Regions from separate parts of the Homo sapiens genome. Here region 1 is linked to region 2. The links come from fine-mapping of genetic effects on gene expression. A gene starts in region 2. The other region holds a variant in brackets. All regions are shown on one strand. Distances are from middle to middle.

The links. PIP is the estimated chance that this variant, and not a neighbour inherited with it, causes the effect.
Region 1: its variant is fine-mapped to the expression of ANKRD54 in esophagus muscle (GTEx, PIP 0.98).

What each region holds. Positions count from the first base shown.
Region 1 is chr22:37,141,370-37,150,706 of GRCh38, reverse strand. It overlaps IL2RB (interleukin 2 receptor subunit beta), which reads left to right and starts at 791. Exons shown (of 10, transcript NM_000878.5): 1 at 791-882; 2 at 6,502-6,622; 3 at 7,072-7,186; 4 at 8,195-8,273. The coding sequence starts at 6,535. RefSeq lists enhancers at 421-532, 615-646, 729-751, 2,455-2,504 and a promoter at 1-881. The variant C/T (reference allele first, on the strand shown) is at 5,978.
Region 2 is chr22:37,839,837-37,849,459 of GRCh38, reverse strand. ANKRD54 (ankyrin repeat domain 54) reads left to right here and starts at 5,126. Exons shown (of 8, transcript NM_138797.4): 1 at 5,126-5,549; 2 at 9,226-9,273. The coding sequence starts at 5,222. MIR658 (microRNA 658) reads left to right here and starts at 5,089; the gene lies at 5,089-5,188. MIR659 (microRNA 659) reads left to right here and starts at 1,686; the gene lies at 1,686-1,782. EIF3L (eukaryotic translation initiation factor 3 subunit L) reads right to left here and starts at 41. Exons shown (of 13, transcript NM_016091.4): 1 at 1-41. The coding sequence starts at 10. RefSeq lists enhancers at 1-399, 400-922 and a silencer at 4,956-5,655.

The DNA.
Region 1 (9,337 bases), 700 kb after region 2:
TTGGGTACGAAAACAGAATTAGATCGAATGAATAAGATCTAGTATTTGATAGCATAACAGGGTGACTTTAGTCAACAATAATTTATTGTACATTTAAAAATAACTAAAAGAGTATACTTGGATTTTAACACAAAGAAAGGATAAATACTTGAGGTGATGGATACCCCATTTACCCTGATGTGATTATTATACATTGTATGCCTGTATCAAAATAGCTCATGTGCCTCATGAATATAGACACCTACCACATGCCCACAAAATTAAAAACTAAAAAAAACAGTCATCTCTGAATGCTAAACGGAGTAAGGGGCTTCCTGGAAGGCTGGGTGAAATGGGAGTCTCGGAAAGATGGTGTGTTGCAGGCTGGGAGGAGGGTGAGACGCTGGGGTCACCTAGAGGGACCTGCTTGTGTGAAGCCTACGTATTAGTGGGTATGTGTGTGACCGGATGGAGGCGTCAGAGGTGTTGGGTAGCCTGTGTGAGTTGGCGTGGGGGTGATGTAGGAGGGGAGAGAGGGAGGGCCTGCGTTCCCTTGGCTCCTGTGTGCAGCTAGGCCCCTATTTGACAATGTGTGTCTGTGTGTGTGTGTGTGTGTGTGTGTGTGTGTGTGTGTGTGTGTGCCGCCCCCAGCGTAGGAGGCAGATCTTTATCTGGCCCTGGGTGCTTGAGGAGTTTCAGGCTTTCTCATAAGCCTCGTCTCCCCGCCTCTCCACCCCAGGCCTTGCCCCTCTATCCTCTGCACAGGAAGTGGGCTGGCTCTGGGCTTTTAGTCTTTGCGGCCCCAGCAGCCAGAGCTCAGCAGGGCCCTGGAGAGATGGCCACGGTCCCAGCACCGGGGAGGACTGGAGAGCGCGCGCTGCCACCGCCCCATGTCTCAGCCAGGTGATGTCCCCCTGCCTCCCTCCCGGCCCCTGTGGACCAGCCAGAGGGCTGGGAGTGAAAGTCACAGAGAAGACTTTCAGCTCTGACTCAGTTCCCCCAGCAGTTTCTGCCTGAACTCCCATCCCCCAACTTTGTCTTAGAATTCCCCTAGGGAGGGGTTGGGCCCAGCTCTCATGGCTCCTGGCTGGAGGAAAAAGCGGTCCCCAGTCCCAGGTCAGCTCTCCTTCCCAACCCATTCAGGGGAGGCTAGGGACTGCTGTGGGATGAGGGGCTTCCCTGGGCTCTGTGTGCTGGGCCCCCAACCCGGAGAGGTGGAGAAGGGATGGGTGGATAGCCTGGGTGCCCGGAGAGGGTACGGGATATGGGGTGGGACAGGCGGGAGCCCCCTCCTGACCTCTGTGGAGTGGGGCCCATATACCGGGGGAGGCAGCCCTGTGTTGCGTGCTCATCAGGAGGCTTGTGGAGTAAGTGGGGACAGAAGGGTCCCCTTGGAGAGCCATCTATGAAGTGAAGTTGCTGCGAGGCCTCTGGGAGCCCCAGGCTGGAGGCAGAGCCCTGGGTTTGAGTCTGGGTTTGTCCCTCCCTTGGCTGCATGACTGGACAGGTCAGAAGCATCTCCGGACATTGGGGATGGGACCCTATCTTTGGGGCTGCCTGGAGCTCATGCTCTCTCCTCTCCTGGGGGCCGAAGCCTCCCACTCTTAACTGTGTTTGTAGCACCTCGGGGGAGGGAGGTGGAGTGAGGAGCTGAGCTATCCCCAAGGGTCCCCTTCCTTCCCCCACAGCCAGGGTCCCGCACCCAGCTGGAGAAGCCCCTGAAGTTAAATAGCAAGAGACAAGCACTGTGTATGGGAGCAGGGGGGTGGCAGGTGGAGGTGGCCAGAGAGGACGAGGGGACATAGGCCCCATTGAGTTCAGAGGTCAAGTTGGATGAACCATGGGCTCCCGAGCTCCTGCTTTACCACCCTGCCCCAGCCACCATATACCCCTGATGGCAGCAGGGGCCCCGAACTGCACCTGACCAGGTTCAAATCCCAGCTCTATGCCCTTCTCGCCTGGGTGAGAGGTTGACCCGTTTCTTAGTCTCCTCATTTGGCAAAAAGGAGGCATACTAGAGCCTCCTCATGGGGCTGTAGGGAGGGCTAAAAGCTGAACTACCCCCGAGCGCTCAGGGCAGGCAGTGTAGGCAGAGAGAGAGCAGGCACCAGTCCCTGTCCCCAGCAGCATCTCTCTGAAAATCAGATGGCTGGGGTCAGCCGCTCCGGGCTTCAGTTCTGGCATGGATCAAATGGGGCAGCAAGACCCACCTTGCAGGGCTGTGGTGGGGACGTAGGCATCCGTGGGTGTGACCAGTTTCAGAGTCATGAACGACAGGGCACGTGTGGGTGTGCCTGAGGACCCAGGAGGGGGTGCTCAAACTCGAGGTCCTGGGCTCCACTTGCTGTCACCCGAGGCTGGGCTTCTCCTCACCGTGCAACCTTAAGTGGGTTCCTTGGCCTCCCTGAGGCACAGCTTCCCCATTGCAGAATGAGGGTGCAGCCTCAGTGACTGCCAGGCGCTCCCTCAGCTCTGTGCCCCTCTGGCACCCCCACACCATCCTCCCGTGGACTCTGCCCTCTCCGAGCATCGCTGCACCTCTGAGCTCCAGGCGGCGGGAAGCAGACTCCAGATGGCGCTTTCTCCTCCTGCCCGGCTGCCTCTAGGCTGGGCCTGTGGTTTACCCCTAACCTTCCTTTGACCTTGCACCCCTTTGTCCCTCAGCACCTTCCTCACACACTGGGGCTCTCTGCAGTTCCTGTCCTGGGCATGGGGTCATCCTGAGGCTGGGCCCGACCTGGGGTGACACCCACACAAAACATTGATGGTCCCCTTGCCCCAGGGCCAGGTTGGCATGATTGAGCGTGAAGGGGCATAGGGGCTATGGGAGTCCCCTGGTTGGGCTATGCACTCTTTGGGGTCCCAACCCTGTGCCCTCTGCTATTGGGGGATCCCAAGAAAGAGGTGAGCAGCCCCCACCCTGGGGAGCTCACCCTCCTGTGGAGACGGTAGGCCAGGCAAAGGCGAGCCCATGGTACCCCGAATAAGCACCTGCCAGTCTGTCTGTGAGCTGCTGGGTCCTGACTCCCAGGACAGAGAGGGTGGCAGCCTTACCTCTGGGACCAGTGTCTGGCAGGGTGGGACAGCATGAGAGAGTGAGCCTGGAGCCCTAGCTCCACCTCTTACTGTGTTTATGACCCTGGGCAAGTTAGGGGCTTGGAGCCTTAGTTTCCTCATCTGTAGAATGGGATAATAAAGCCATTGGGCAGCTTAGACGAGCTGGCATATGTGAGGCACTTGGCCCCAGGCCTAGCATAGAGTATGTGCTCAGTACACAGAACGAGTATTATTAGTTCACCAGTGCATATTTACTGTCGTGTGAGCTGTCGTGGTGGGAAGATGCGTCTGGGGAGTTCCAGGAGGGGAGGATCCCTGCCTGGGCACTGGGCAGTCTGCCCTGACTCAGATTCCAGAAAGGCCTCTTATCCACTGCATGACCTTAGGCAACGCACTTCACCTCTGTGTGCCTCCGTTTCCTCATTGGAAAATGGGGATAATAAGAGTATCCCCGCCAGAGGCCCTGATTGCTGCATTTAAAGAGTTTTAAATGGAGCCTGGCTTACAGTAACCTGTCAGCCGATGGTTTTGGTGTGACTAAGGGGGTGGCAGAGCGGCGTGGAGTTGGGTTCTGATCCCAGCTCTGTGCTGGGCTCCTGATGTAACCTTCAGCAAGTCTTTCCCACTTCGGGACCTCAGTGTTCTCAAATGTAGAACAAGGGACTGTGCTTGCTCAGAGAGCCTTTGCAGCTTTGACAGTGCGTGGGCCTCTGACTCTCACTCCTGTGACATCTGCCTTAGGAGATGGAACCCATGGCTCTTGGGGCCAGGGTGTGTGTCCCTGCTCCATGCTGGCTCTGATGTAAGCCACGAGACAATCCAGGGCCACCTAAAGAGCTCTGCTTTTTTTTTTTTGCCGTACTGAGGCCTCTGACCACACTCATTCATTTCACTACATTTATTGAGCACCGACTGTGTGCCCGGCCCTGTGCTCAGCAGTCCCTGGAGCGAGTGTGCTGGTGGGCCAGCCCCTGGTCAACGCCGGCCCTGCTGCTGCCAGCCTAGAGGGAGGAGCAAGGCGCTCAGAAGAGGAAGCCCTCGCCCTCCATCACGGAAATCAGGGAAGGCTTCATGGAAAAAGGCATGAGGGCCCGTTTGAAATGGGCTTGAAGGATGGCAGGATCTGTAGGGGACCCAGGGAAAGGATAGACTTGGGAAGGACCTTTGGAGGGTGAGTGTCGGTTTCCTGGTCACCTGGAGCCACTGGCTTGTGCAGGCAGGTAGGTGCGGTGTGTGTGTGCTTTGGCCTGGGTACATGCACCTGCTCCTGTGAGGGCAGGGTCTGGAAGGGTGGGCTGACCTCATTCCGGTCCCAGAAAGCCTCGAAAATGGGAATTTAGGCTTTGATTGCAACAGGGCCACTGCAGGTTCCTGGGCAGGGATGTGGGTGGTTGGAGGCGGGCTTCAGGGAAGGCAGGTGAGAGCCTGCAGATGGGGTGGTGCCGTTGTCTGGGCTGGAACGGCACGAGGCTGGCCTGGTGAGGGTGGGGAAGAGACAACAAGTAGTCACTGGAGTGTCCTGCTGTCTGAGGAGAGTCCTGACTGGCTAGGTATGGGGGCAAAGGTCACCTGGAATAGGAAGGGTACAGTTGTCCCAGAACTGAAAGTCAGACAGGAGAAGAGCTGGGGATGAGCTGGGTTTTTGCCGGGTCCAGGAGCATCCCCTGTGAGGGGGTCCTGCAGACCATCGGGAGGGACGTGGAGGCTTGGGGCTGAGCTGGAGAAAGACCCTGGGAAGCTGAGGGCTGGAGCCAGTGAGAGGCTCAAGAGAGAGAAGGGAAGGGGAGTGAGAGCTCGAGTTTGGAGCCGCTGGAGAAGGGGGAACAGCGGGGGAAATGCCCAACGCTCAGGAGCCTTGGAAGCTCTCGAGATGGAAGAGCAGGAGGGAGGGAAGGATGTTCCACCTCCTCCACATCTCTTGACTCACCTGCTCCTCTCCCCTCTCCCCCTGCCCCTCTGACTGAGGCTACCCTCATCTTTCCCTGGAAGCTCCCTCCTCATCTCCCTGCCTCCCCCTTTGCCTGCTCCAAACACCTCTCCTGGAAGCAGTCCCCTTATCTTCCCGAAGTGACCATGTGCTCACTTTCTCATTCCCCTCCGCACACCCAGCCCCTGCAGAGGGTGGGGGCAGCTACTTTTCTTTCCCATTTCCGCTGCGACAGTTGTGGTCTTGCCTCACGGGAGCTTCCACGGTTGGCTAGAGGTTCCCTGAGAAGCAAGTCTTTGTCTCAAAAAAAAAAAGTAAATAAATAAAGCACTGGCCAGTGGCCAGTGCATAATAGGCACTCCGGGAAAACTTTTGAGCCTCCCTCTGACAGGGCTGGCTTAGAGATTTCATGTCTCTTTCCTCCCTGGGGTATAATCTGGGTGACCAACCTGGCCCTGCCTCCAGGGAGCTTCCAGGCAGGTAGGGGAGTACGAGTGTGGACAAGGTCCTCCGTAAAGGCTACTGCAGCCCTCTGTGCCTCAGTTTCCCCTGTCCTCTAGGGCTCTTCAGTGTTTGGGTCAGAGCTCCTATCTGCTTTTCTGCTTTTCCGAGTTCGCGTCCTGATGCCTTCACACCATTGCCTCAGCTCCCTCGAGGGACAGTGAGGGGCAGAGGCAGGGGCTAGCCTCAGAGCCCTCTGGAAGCCCCTCTACCTGCTGACTTTAGCTCTGTCTATATTTATTCCATCACTTGTTTGTTCAAGAATTTTTTTTGGCCAGATGCCTACTATGTGCCAGGCACTGTTCTAGGAATTGTGGACCTAGCAATGAACAAAACACAAAAATACCTGTCCTTAGTGAGCTTACGTGACTCTGTGTGTGTTTGTGAAGAGAGATAGAGGAAAACATGAATCAGTCAATAAACGATGAATAAATAATGCTATGATGAAAATGTAGGGGGGTGGTGAGTAACAAAGGGTGCTTCTTTTATTTTTTTCTTTGAGACAGAGTCTTA[C/T]TCTGTCGTCCAGGCTGGAGTGCAGTGGTGCCATCTCGGTTCACTGCAAACTCCGCCTCCAGGTTCAAGCAATTCTCCTGTCTTAGACTCCCGAGTAGCTGGGACTACAGGCACCCACCACCTTGCCCGGCTAATTTTTGTATTTTTAGTAGAGACAGGGTTTCACCATGTTGGTCAGGCTGGTCTCAAACTCTTGACCTCAGGTGATTCGTCTGCCTCGACCTCCCAAAGTGCTGGGATTACAGGCATGAGCCACACGCCTGGCCACGACGGGTGCTTCTTTATGTAGTCTAGTCAAAGAAGACCTCTCAAAGGAGGCTGCAGTTGAGCAGAAACTTGAAGGAAGGGTGTGAGCATGTGTAGGGTGGTGGGATTAGCAGGTGCAAAGGCCCTGGGGCTGGACTGAGCTGGCACCGAGGAGTGCAGACCATGCACACTGAGGGGGCGGGCCCAGCCTGCCTCTAGGGGCAGCGAGGCCTGGGATGTGTATTTACGTGTGCTCTCTCTTTCTCCTCTCCCACCAGGGCTTCCTTCCTCGGCTCCACCCTGTGGATGTAATGGCGGCCCCTGCTCTGTCCTGGCGTCTGCCCCTCCTCATCCTCCTCCTGCCCCTGGCTACCTCTTGGGCATCTGCAGCGGTGAATGGTGAGGACCCTGACATCTGAACAGCTCTGCTTTCCCTATGGAGAGATGGCTAAGGCCCTGCTAAAGCCTCTTCCCAGAAGGGGATGGGGCCAGAGACCAGGTGTCCACCTCCTGCCTCACCCTCTGTCCTGGACCCCTGCCCTGGCATGCATGCATGAATGCGCGCACACACACACACACACACACACACACACACACACGCCTCTCCAAGCCACAGGCTTGTGCTACTTTCTGTCCCTGCCTTGCCTTAGTTTGCCTGTAGGAACTTGCAGGCTCTGGAGCTCCATTTCCTCCTCTCTGAAGTGGGTCCATGAATCCCTTCTCCGCTTGCCAGAGTTACCCACCTCCTCCTCTGGCAGGTGTGGGTGCCAGGTGCAGGGGCAGTGGGCGTGTCTTGGGGGGGCTGTGGGCACCTACAGTCAGCACTCACACCTCATCTTGCCCGGCAGGCACTTCCCAGTTCACATGCTTCTACAACTCGAGAGCCAACATCTCCTGTGTCTGGAGCCAAGATGGGGCTCTGCAGGACACTTCCTGCCAAGTCCATGCCTGGCCGGACAGACGGTGAGTCCACTGGCCACACTGCAGAATCTTAGGATGGTGGGATCTCATATTCTGGATCCTATGCACTGGACTCCAAGGAGTCAACGTTTACAGAATCTTGGACTAATGGGACCCACAGACTTTTTGAATCACAGGAGTTGGGGCCCAGGCCTGGAATCAAGGGATCGTTTAAGAGAATTTGGGAGTCAGCTATTTAGACTTCTAGAACCTGGGTGGAGTCCAGGCTGCAGTGGAGGGGCTGGGGATGAACTGGACAGGGTAGTTTGGGGACACTGAGCTGCAAGCCTGCTATGCCAAGGCTGGACTCCACTCTAGAGGCAAGCAGAGAGGAAGTGGGGAGAAAGGAGGGTCCCCAAGCTTTTTGGATAAGCTCGGATTTTGAGAGACCCTGTAGGCAGCTGTGGGGACAGGGAACCTGGGAGTGGTTTGGGTGCCTGGTGGATGGGAGAGAGATGTCACTGTGATGTAAACATCCAGGCGGCCAGTGAGTGAGGGACTGACCCCAGGTAGGCTTGATGGGGTCAGGGAGAAGAGGAAGACCACAGAGAGGTGGCTGGGCCCAGGTGGATTCCATAGGGTGTGGGGTGGGGGAAAATGGGGAGGGAGATGGAGGGGTAAGGCAGGTTCGGGCCCTGGCTTCTGGGTGGGTGGTGATTCCACACGGCTCTGAAGGCCTAATTAAGGATCTATCTTCATCCTAAGCCTCATGGAGCTTTGGAGGGCTCTAGGTGGGGAGGACTGCCTGTCTTGAAGTGGTTTGTGTTTCTAGATCACTCCAGCTGCCGTGGGACCAGGCTGGGATGAGGGAGCAGGACAAGGTGCCCATGAGGGAGGAATGCCATGGAGCCAGTGGGGGAGGCAGTGCCCCTCACAGTGGTTGGCACAGGGGCCCCAGCCTGGCCTTGCTGCCTGGTGCCATCCTGGCAGCAGAGAGATCTGAGAAGAGTCCCTTGGGCCAGCTGTGTGGGTCCTTCCTGTTCTTCTAAAGAGGGTCTTTTGCCATGAAAGGCGGTGGAACCAAACCTGTGAGCTGCTCCCCGTGAGTCAAGCATCCTGGGCCTGCAACCTGATCCTCGGAGCCCCAGATGTGAGTAGCCCACCCAGGGAGAGAGTGCAGGGAGAGGGTGGTCTCCCAGCTCCGGGCTGCGATCTCAGGGTGGGCCGGATGCCAGGGGAAGAGCTGAGGCCCAATGGCTGGGGCTGTGGCTAAGCAGGATGCCCAGCGCTGAGCAAGAGGCAGAGAAAAACAGGTGACACCCCAGGGAGTGGACTCAGGCCTGCCCCAGGGCCGACGGACCCTCTGTATGTGAGGCATCTGCCATTCTGCCTCTGCTCCTGCTGTCTCCCCTGCGCTTTGTGGGTCCTGTGACACTTGTGTTCCTTATCAAGTAAGACAGCACTCCAGTAACTGTAATGACCACACCCAGCTCTTCCCGGGGGCTTGGCAGTGCAGTGCAGTGTGGGGGGTGAAGGGTGTAGACTCTGGAGCTGGATGCTCCAGCCCTGGCTCACCAGCTGGGTGACATTGGGCAACCCCTGTGCCCCAGTCTCCCCTTCTGTAAAATGGGCATAATAATGGCACCTACCTTGTTGGGTCAAGGCCCAACAAGGGCCTTGTTTTTCAGGCCCTCCCCAGCCTGAAGGTGGGACCTCACCAGGGACCCGCCTCCTTCTGCCCAGGCTGCTCGGGCCAAGGGGCACCTGCAGGCCAGTGCCAAGCTGTCCCCTGCACCCCCGTGGCTTCCCATCCCCCTGTGCTCATTGGTGCCTAAAGTCCAGAGGGGGCCGAGGCAGCTGGGGCCAGTGAGTCAGTGCTGCCTCGAGCGTGCCAGGCTGTGGTAGTGCCTGGGCTTGGTCCCGCTCTGAGATTGGAGTGGGCACTGGAGCAGGAGGAGGCCAGACAGTGGGAGCAGACACCCCTGAGCTTGTGGGGGCAGTAGAGATGCCTGGGTCCTGGCTTGGGCAGCTGCAGCTGCCCCAGGAGAGCTCCTGGCTACCTCGGAAGGGGCAGGGGTCCCGCTTGTCCCCGACTCACACTGGATCCACAGAGTGCGTAGCCCCGACTGTGCCTCCAGGATCAGATCGGGTGCCAGAAGCAGGGGAGAGGCCAAGCAGTGGGAACAGACAGCTCTGAGCCTGCGGAGGCAAGGG
Region 2 (9,623 bases):
GATAAGACATGGCTGCCTCGCTTGCGAGCACCGCCGGAAAGAGCGAAATGAGCGGCCCGCGCCTGCGTCCTGAGGCCGGAAGTTCAGCCCCACTCGGGCCTGCCGGGAAACCGGAAGCCTTTCCGAGGCCTCTGGCCATCTGAGACAGCCATATCCAGAAGGAAGAGGAGCCGCGTTCCGTGGCTCACACCTGTAACCCCACCAGTTTGGGAGGCCGAGGCGGGCGGATCACCTGAGGCTGAGGCCGGGGGTTTGAGACCAGCCTGACCAATATGGAGAAACCCCGTCTCTACTAAAAATACAAAATTAGCCGGGAGTGGTGGCGCATGCCTGTAATTCCAGCTACTCGGGAGGCTGAGGCAGGAGAGTCGCTTGAACCCGGGAGGCGGAGGTTGCGGTGAGCCGAGATCGCGCCATTGCACTCTAGCCTGGGCAACAAGAGGGAAAACTCCGTCTAAAAAGAATAAGAGGGTTACAAGTAGCCTGAATTTTCCTCTCTTCAAATAGGGACTTCTCAAAGAAGGTGAATCTATAATAGTGGTGTAGATTCAGATATAAGGACACGTATTTGGCGTAAAGGAGAGGCAAAGTTAGAGGAACCAGAAAGAATGCTACACAAAAGATGGCCGGCTTCTCGCGTGAAGGAAGATTCGGATACGGGGGCCTGATGGATTTAGTTGTAGGCGGTTTGCCTGCAGCGAGTAAATTATTCAAACGTTCGGACTTCACAAGACTAAACTTACTGGGGATAAAAATTGAGATTTGGCCGGGCGCGATGGCTCACGCCTGTAATCCCTACACTTTGGGAGGCCGAGGCGGGTGGATGATCTGAGATCAGGAGTTCGAGACCAGCCTGGCCGAAATGGCGAAACCCCGTCTCTATTAAAAATACAAAAATTAGCCGGGAGTGGTAGCGTCCGCCTGTAATCCCAGCTACTCAGGAGGCTGAAGCAGGAGAATCGGTGGAACCTGAGAGGCAGAGGCTGTAGTGAGCCGAGATCGCGCCACTGCACTCCAGCCTGGGCGACAGAGCAAGACTCCGTCTAAAAAAAAAAAGAAAAAAAAAAATTGAGATTTGGTCCCATGCAGTAAGAGGGAATGGAGAACAGGAGCCACCCAACTTTGGACATTAAAGTTGGAGCAGGCAAAGATGAGGCCAGCTGTGTCGCGAAGCCTGGGACATGGGCAGCTCTTGAGTACACCGGGTTCGAGGCCAGGGGAAACCCTCAAGGTAGAGATGGGGTTATAAAGCAAACCAATAAAAACCGGTGTATGAGTCAAGGAGAGGCCTTAGTTTAGCCATCTGCCCATACACAACACCTAGTGGAAATCCGAGTTCCAGTCCCTACTCCGCCACTGATTTGCTGTGTGACCAGGACTCTCTGGGTCCCTTTGTCACGCCGCCCTCCTTGCTTTTCCCACTGAGGCACGCTCCACCTCTGGGATTTTGCACTCACTGTTATCCAAGTCTAGAATCGAATGCAGTGGCACCCCCACTCCCATTCCCTTCCCCATCGGTATCTGCATGGCACCTTCAGGTGTCTGCTCTGATGCCATCCACTCAACATCCTATTGAGAATTGCAATGCCCAGCCCCAACTCCCTATGCTGCGTTCTTGTTTTGTGTTTCTTCCTTGTGCTGTCACCAGAGGTGACACAAATTTGGAAATAATGGAGCTTAAGCTTTACCGACCCTCGATTTGGTTCAGGACCTTCCCTGAACCAAGGAAGAGTCACAGTCTCTTCCTTGGTTCAGGGAGGGTCCCCAACAATGTCCTCATGGTCCTTTGCTTTTGTAAAATTTGTGAAATATTTTTATTGCTGAAACCACCTTTGCAAAAATTGTAACAGTGAGAAAATAATGACAGTGAAAGAGATCTGATCTAACCAACCCTCATCTTCCATTTAATCTTCAGACTGCCCTTAATCATTCCTGGCTCGAACCGAGCTAACTTTGGGAGACATTTAGTTTCTAGTTTAAATAATAACCCTTCTCCGAGGCCTGGCACAGTGGTTCACACCTGTAATCCCAGCACTTTGGGAGGCCAAGGCAGATGGATCACCTGAGGTCAGGAGTTCGAGACCAGCCTGGCCAACATAGTGAAACCCCGTCTCTACTAAAAATATAAAATTAGCCGGGCATGGTGGCATATGCCTGTAGTCCCAGCTACTCGGGAGGCTGAGGCAGGAGAATCACTTGAACCTAGGAGGCGGAGGTTGTGGTGAGCCAAGATTGCACCACTGCACTCCAGCCTGGGCAACAAGAGCAAAACTGCCTCAAAAAAAAAAAGAAAAAAGAAAAGAAATTGGCCGGGCGCGGTGGCTCACGCCTGTAATCCCAGCACTTTGGGAGGCCGAGGCGGGTGGATCATGAGGTCAGGAGATCGAGACCATCCCGGCTAAAATGGTGAAACCCCGTCTCTACTAAAAATACAAAAAATTAGCCGGGCGTAGTGGCGGGCGCCTGTAGTCCCAGCTACTTGGGAGGCTGAGGCAGGAGAATGGCGTGAACCCGGGAGGCGGAGCTTGCAGTGAGCCGAGATCCTGCCACTGCACTCCAGCCTGGGCGACAGAGCGAGACTCCGTCTCAAAAAAAAAAAAAAGAAAAGAAATTACCTGAAATCTTATAGTCCATATATGACAGGAATTTGATACAGGTTGCTCCAATTTGACAACAATTCTCAAAATGTTCATGACATTTGAGAAGGAGTTGTGAAGTCAGAAGATTTTCATGGGGCTGGATGTGGTGGCTCATGCCAGCACTTTGGGAGGCCAAGGTGGGAGGATCACTTGAGCTCAGGAGCTCAAGATCAGCCTGGGCAATATAGTGAGACCCCATCTTAAAAAAAAATTGGGGCCCAGGCACTGTGGCTCACTCCTGTAATCTCAGCATTTTGGGATGTGGAGGCAGGAGGATCCCTTGAGGCGAGGAGTTCAAGACCAGCCTGAACAAAAAAGTGAGACCATGTCTACAAAAAATCAAAAAAATAATTAGCCAGGCACGGTGGTACACATCTGTGGCCCCAGCTACTCAGGAGGCTGAGGTGGGAGGAAAGCTTGAGTGCAGTGAGCTGTGATCACACCACTGCACTCCAGCCTGAGTGACAGTGAGAGATCCTGTCTCAGCACTGTATCCATTATGGGGCAGACGAGGAGAGTACAAATAAACATAGCATTTTTTTCCATATAGTACAATGATAAACCTCACAATGGCGACTGCAAACACTGAAAATTCTGGAAGTGCTTTTCCAATTGTAAGAGAAAGATTACTTTTTTTTTTCTTTTTGAGATGGAGTCTTTCTCTGTCGCCCAGACTGGAGTGCAGTGGTGCGATCTCGGCTCACCGCAAGCTCTGCCTCCTGGGTTCACGCCATTCTCCTGCCTCAGCCTCCTGAGTAGCTGGGACTAAAGGTGCCCACCACCACACCAGGCTAATTTTTTTGTATTTTTAGTAGAGACGGGGTTTCACCATGTTAGCCAGAATGGTCTCAATCTCCTGACCTCGTGATCTGCCTGCCTCAGCCTCCCAAAATGCTGGGATTACAGGCGTGAGCCACAGCGCCAGGCCTTTTTTTTGTTTTTGTTTCTTTCTGAGATGGAGTCTCGCTCTGTCACCCAGGCTGGAGTGCCATGGTGCGATCTCAGCTCACCGCAACCTCTGCCTCCCAGGTTCAAGCTACTCTCCTGCCTCAGTGTCCTGAATAGCTGGGATTACAGGCGTGCGCCACCACACCCAGCTAATTTTTGTATTTTTAGTAGAAACGAGGTTTCATCATGTTGGCCAGGCTTGTCTTGAACTCCCGACCTTGTCATCTGCCCATTTTGGCCTCCCAAAGTGCTGGGATTACAGGCGTGACCCACCGTGCGGAAAGATTACATTTTAACTGGGTTGAGTGGGAGGGTTTATATATGGAAAGAACTTTTGCCAGGACACAAGACCTGGTCCGGTGAGAGCTGGGCAACTGTGAATGAGTCTCTTCCCTCTGCTTTTCAACTCCTCACCTATAAAATAGGGATGGTCCTTCTTGTCTACTTTATAGAAGTGCTTGTGGGGTACGGGATTGTGAGAAGTTTTATGAAAACGTGCACCCATGAAATGTTGCTTGAGGAACACTTATTTGTTTCCTGGTCTTCTCCCATTGGATTGTGAGCATCTCAGGGGCACCAAGTCTGATCCTGTGTCCAGGACCTAGCAGTTACCTGGCTCAGTGACTGGCTGTCGAACTAAACTATTGCTCTAATGTAATCACTTTGTATTACAAATCTTTGTAGATCAGTCATCTACGTCGGGGTTACCTAGAGAACTCTGACTAAAGGAAATCCATTGCATTTAGACACTATTACTCACAGTTTGTAGTGGTATCTCCAAATTTCAACACATTTTCCCTTTCCCACGTACATTATGCATTTGTGGGAAGTTCTTTTTTTTTTTTTTTTTTGCGTTCATTGATTTACAACATCTATATCTACATGGATGGCGTGGCTTCTTCATTTTCCTTTGTGAGTGCCTGCAAATCATCTTAATCTGATTTGCTAAGGTATCTGCTTGTTTTCTCATTAGACTGGGAAATGGAGAGGAAAAAGAAAAAAAAAGGCCGGGCGCGGTGGCTCACGCCTGTAATCCCAGCACTTTGGGAGGCCGAGGCCGGCACATCTCGAGATCAAGAGATCGAGACCATCCTGGCCAACATGGTGAAACCCCGTCTCTACTAAAAATACAAAAATTAGCTGGGCGTGGTGGCGCGCGCCTGTAGTCCCAGCTACTCGGGAGGCTGAGGCAGGAGAATTGCTTCAAGGAGGCGGAGGTTGCAGTGAGCCGAGATCGCGAGCCTGGCGGCAGAGCGAGACTCCGTCGCAAAAAAAAAGCGTCTGAAATGCTGTTTTACTGGCTCCGGTAGCGACGTACAGCGAAAGCCAAGGTCACTTCAAGTTTGTAATTGGTTACAATGTCTGTCAGTCACGTTGCCGGAAACCCTGTCCAATTATCCTGCTTGTACTGTGCCCTCCCTTTCCGATTGGTTTTGGGACCGGTTTAAGCTGGAAGGGTAGTCATTGGTTCGCCGCTCTGTCTCGGCCTGAGCCCGCCCCCGCTCGGTTGCCGTGGTTGCGGGCCCTGCCCGCCCGCCAGCTCGCTGACAGCACGACTCAGGGCGGAGGGAAGTAGGTCCGTTGGTCGGTCGGGAACGAGGCTCAGGCGGCCAGGCCCGCGCGGAGCCGTTGCCATGGCAGCCGCCGCCGGGGACGCGGACGACGAGCCGCGCTCAGGCCACTCGAGCTCGGAGGGCGAGTGCGCGGTGGCGCCGGAGCCGCTGACTGACGCTGAGGGCCTCTTCTCCTTCGCTGACTTCGGGTCTGCGCTGGGCGGCGGCGGCGCGGGCCTCTCGGGCCGGGCGTCCGGCGGGGCCCAGTCGCCGCTGCGCTACTTGCACGTCCTGTGGCAGCAGGATGCGGAGCCGCGCGACGAGCTGCGCTGCAAGATACCCGCTGGCCGGCTGAGGCGCGCTGCCAGGCCCCACCGGCGGCTCGGGCCCACGGGCAAGGAGGTGCACGGTGAGCGGCGCGAGCGGCGCGGGGGCCCGGGGCGGGGCAGCCCGGGCGAGGGGCGGGGCCTCAGAGGACCAGTGGCCGCGCTTTGGTCGCCCCCGACCCTCAGCCGGGGTCCCCCGACGTCTGCGCTGAGGGCCACACTGACCCTTGAGTCTCCTTTCAGTAACGATGGTGATGATGGTTTTTTTAGAAAGTCTTCCTGCTCTGAGCCAGTCACCCCAGTCTTCTCTCACTGGGTAATTTCTGAATGGAAACTTCCCATGACTCGGAACGCTTATTGGTGAATAATAAAATGAGGTACTGGGGAACACTTTTATTATCATGGAGAGGGGAGGCCAGAGCCTGCAGCCAAGTCGTACCAGCTTGTTTAAATGCACGGACTTGGACTCCTTTACCACAGTTAGACCTTAGGGCAAATGATAGACCCTTTCAACCTTAGTTTTCTTTTTAAATTTTTTTATTTTTATTTATTTATTATTATTATCTTTTTGGAGACGGAGTCTCGCTCTGTTGCCCAGGCTGGAGTGCAGTGGCGCCATCTTGGTTCACTGCAACCTCCGCCCCCCGGGTTCAAGCGATTCTCCTGCCTCAGCCTCCCGAGTAGCTGGGGTTACAGGCGCCCACTACCAAGCCCGGCTAATTATTGTAATTTTAGTAAAGATGGGGTTTCACCATGTTTGCCAGGCTGGTCTCGAACTTCTGATCTCAGGTGATCCACCCACCTCGGCCTCCCAAAGTACTGGCATAACAGGCATGAGCCACTGGCCCGGCCTCAGCCCTAGTTTTCTCATCTGTAAAATGGGATGAGTTAAGTAAGGTAATGGATGTTTAGCTGTTATGCTGCCTTTGCTGTGCCCCAAACACTGCTGATACATGATCATCTGTCCTCACAAGAACTCTTTGAGACATAGAAATTGTTCCCACTTTACTGAAGAGGAAACTGAGGCTCAGAGAAATTGTCTTATTCCAGGTCACATAGCAAGTGGCTGTTGCTGGTATTAGAATCCGGGTCAGCCCGACTCAAACTTCTCCTCTGGTATATCTACCATATTGTCTTCTACAATGCATGGGTGACATGGAAACCCAGGCACTGAGAGATTAAGAATGGGGACTTTGGGGATTTCTTCCAGGACTGGCTATGACTCTAGCCATATTTTAGTGATGTCACGAAGATGAAATAAGAATTTGGAAGCGTTGTATTGACCATAAAGTGCTGTATGAAAGCAAGGAATTGTCATGTATCTGAATTGCAATTTTTGACCATATCTCCGATGACAAAGACATTGCTTTCCATTAGCCATTGGAGGGGGAAAATCTGCTTAGGAAATACCAAATTTAGGCAAATCATTTGGGAACGACCTGCTTTGAAGGAGAATATAAGATTATCTGTGTAACCAGCTCACAAAGAGCTTCTGTGTAAATCATTTGCAATAACTCGGGGCTGGCAGAACAACTCAGCCTTGTTTTGCAGATGATAGACCTGAGGCCCAGCTGGGTTAACTAGCTTGCTCAAGGTCACCCTGTGACTACAAGTGATAGAGAGGAAATCTGGCTCCAAAAGTCTTGGAGGATTTGCAGGAGGATGTGGCCTTTGTACTAGCTCCGCCTCATTTCAAGTTTCTCCTTGTTCCCAGGGCACTGTCTTTCTTTTCTTTTTTTGAGACGAGAGTCTCGCTTTACCACCCAGGCTGCAGTGCAGGTGGTGCAATCTCGGCTCACTGCCTCAGCCTCCCAAGTAGCTGGGACTACAGGCCCGCACCACCACACCCAGCTAGTTTTTGTATTTTTAGTAGAGATGGGGTTTTACCATGTTAGATTGATTTAAGTTAGAACTTAACCTAAGATTGAGAAATATTTTTTCTTTCTTTTTTTTTGAGATGGAGTGTTGCTCTGCCACCCAGGCTGGAGTGCCATGGTGTGATTTTGGGCTCAAGTGATTCTCGTGTCTCAGCCTCCCAAGTAGCTGGGATTACAGGCATGCACCACCACACCCGGCTAATTTTTGTGTTTTTATTTTATTTATTTATTTATTTATTTATTTATTTATTTATTTATTTATTTATTTTGAGACAGAGTCTTGCTCTATTGCCCAGGCTGGAGTGCAGTGGCGCGATCTTGGCTCACTGCAACCTCCGGCTCTCAAGTTCAAGTGATTCTCCTGCCTTAGCCTCCTGAGTAGTTGGGATAACAGGCATGCACCACCATGCCTGGCTAATTTTTGTATTTTTAGTAGAGAAGGGATTTCACCTTATTGGCCAGGCTGGTCTCAAACTCCTGACCTCGTGATCCACCCACCTTGGCCTCTCAAAGTGTTGGGATTACAGGCGTGAGCCACTGTGCCCGGCCTATGTTTTTTGTGTGTGTGTGTGTGTGTGTGTGTGTTTGTGTGAGACAGAGTCTCACTCTGTTGCCCGAGCTGGAGTACAGTGGCACAGTCTTGGCTCACTGCAACCTCTGCCTCCTGGGCTTAAGCGATTCTCCTGCCTGAGCCTCCCAAGTAGCTGGGATTGTAGGCGTGCACCCCCATGCCCAACTAATTTTTTGTATTTTAGTATAGACAAGGTTTCACCATGTTGCCCAGGGTGGTTTCAAACTCCAGAGCACAGGCAATCTGCCCACCTCAGCTTTCCAACGTTCTGGGATTACAGGCGTGAGTCACCACGTATGGCTAGTTTTGTATTTTTAGTAGAGATGGGGTTTCAGCATGTTGGCCAGGCTGGTCTTGAACTCCTGGCCTCAAGTGATCCACCTGCCTTGGCCTCCCAAAGTACCGGGATTATAGGCATGAGCCACTGCGCCCAGCCATTGTGGCTTTTTTTTTTTTTTTTTTTCCTGAGACAGTCTCACTTTGTTGCCCAGGCTGGAATGCAGTGGCGTGATCTCATCTCACTGTAGCCTCCGCCTTCCGGCTTCAACCCATTCTCCTACCTCGGCCTCCTAAGTAGCTGGTGTTACACGTGCACACCACCACACCCAGCTAGATGGCTGGGTTTTTTTTGTTGGTTTTTGTTGTTTTTGTTTTTTTCTGAGACAGCGTCTCACTCTGTCACCCAGGCTGGAGTGCAGTGGCGCGATTTTGGCTTACTGCAACCTCCATGTCCTGGGTTCAAGTGATTCTCCTACCTCAGCCTCCAGAGTAGCTGGGATTACAGGCATGTGCACCACACCCGGCTAATTTTTTTGTATTTTTAGTAGAGATGGGGTTTCACCATGTTGTCCAGGCTGGTTTTGAACTCCTGGCCTCAAGTGATCCACCTGCCTCGGCCTCCCAAAGTGCTGGGATTACAGACGTGAGCCATCATGCCCAGCCAATGGCTGTGTTTTTTTTGTGTGTGTTTGTTTGTTTGTTTGTTTTGAGACGGAGTCTCACTCTGTCACCCAGGCTGGAGTGCAGTGGCGCGATCTCTGCTCACTGCAAGCTCCACCTCCCAGGTTCACGCCATTCACCCGCCTCAGCCTCCCGAGTAGCTGGGACTACAGGCACCTGCCACCACGCCCGGCTAATTTTTTTGTATTTTTAGTAGAGATGGGGTTTCACCATGTTAGCCAGGATGGTCTCGATCTCCTGACCTTGTGATCTGCCTGCCTTGGCCTCCCAGAGTGCTGGGATTATAGGCATGAGCCACCGCACCCAGCCATGGCTGTTTTTTTAAACTGGCATCCGTTACTCTCTTTACAGCTCTGAAGAGACTGAGGGACTCGGCCAATGCCAATGATGTGGAAACAGGTGAGTGTGCACAGTAGGTCCAGCTACAGGGTCCCATGGGCTGGTTGGGGAAGGAAAAGGCCAGGTAATCAATATGTGGGAAGGCAGTCTGCAAACTCACGCCCTTGGAGCAGGCTCACTGTATTTATTGTCTGACTGTGCAGTCATCTTGCTGAAGGTAAGTCTGGCTTAGACACTCACTCTCCCCATGCTCCCCTGTCACTTTGAACTTCCTGATGTCATAGCATTTACCACCCTGTGGACTCCTTGATGGTGGAGACCATGTATACTTTTGTATCCCTGGCAGCCAGCACAGTCTTCTGCAAAGAGTAGGCACTAACTTTGGAACTTGTGGTTAATGGGAGTGAATA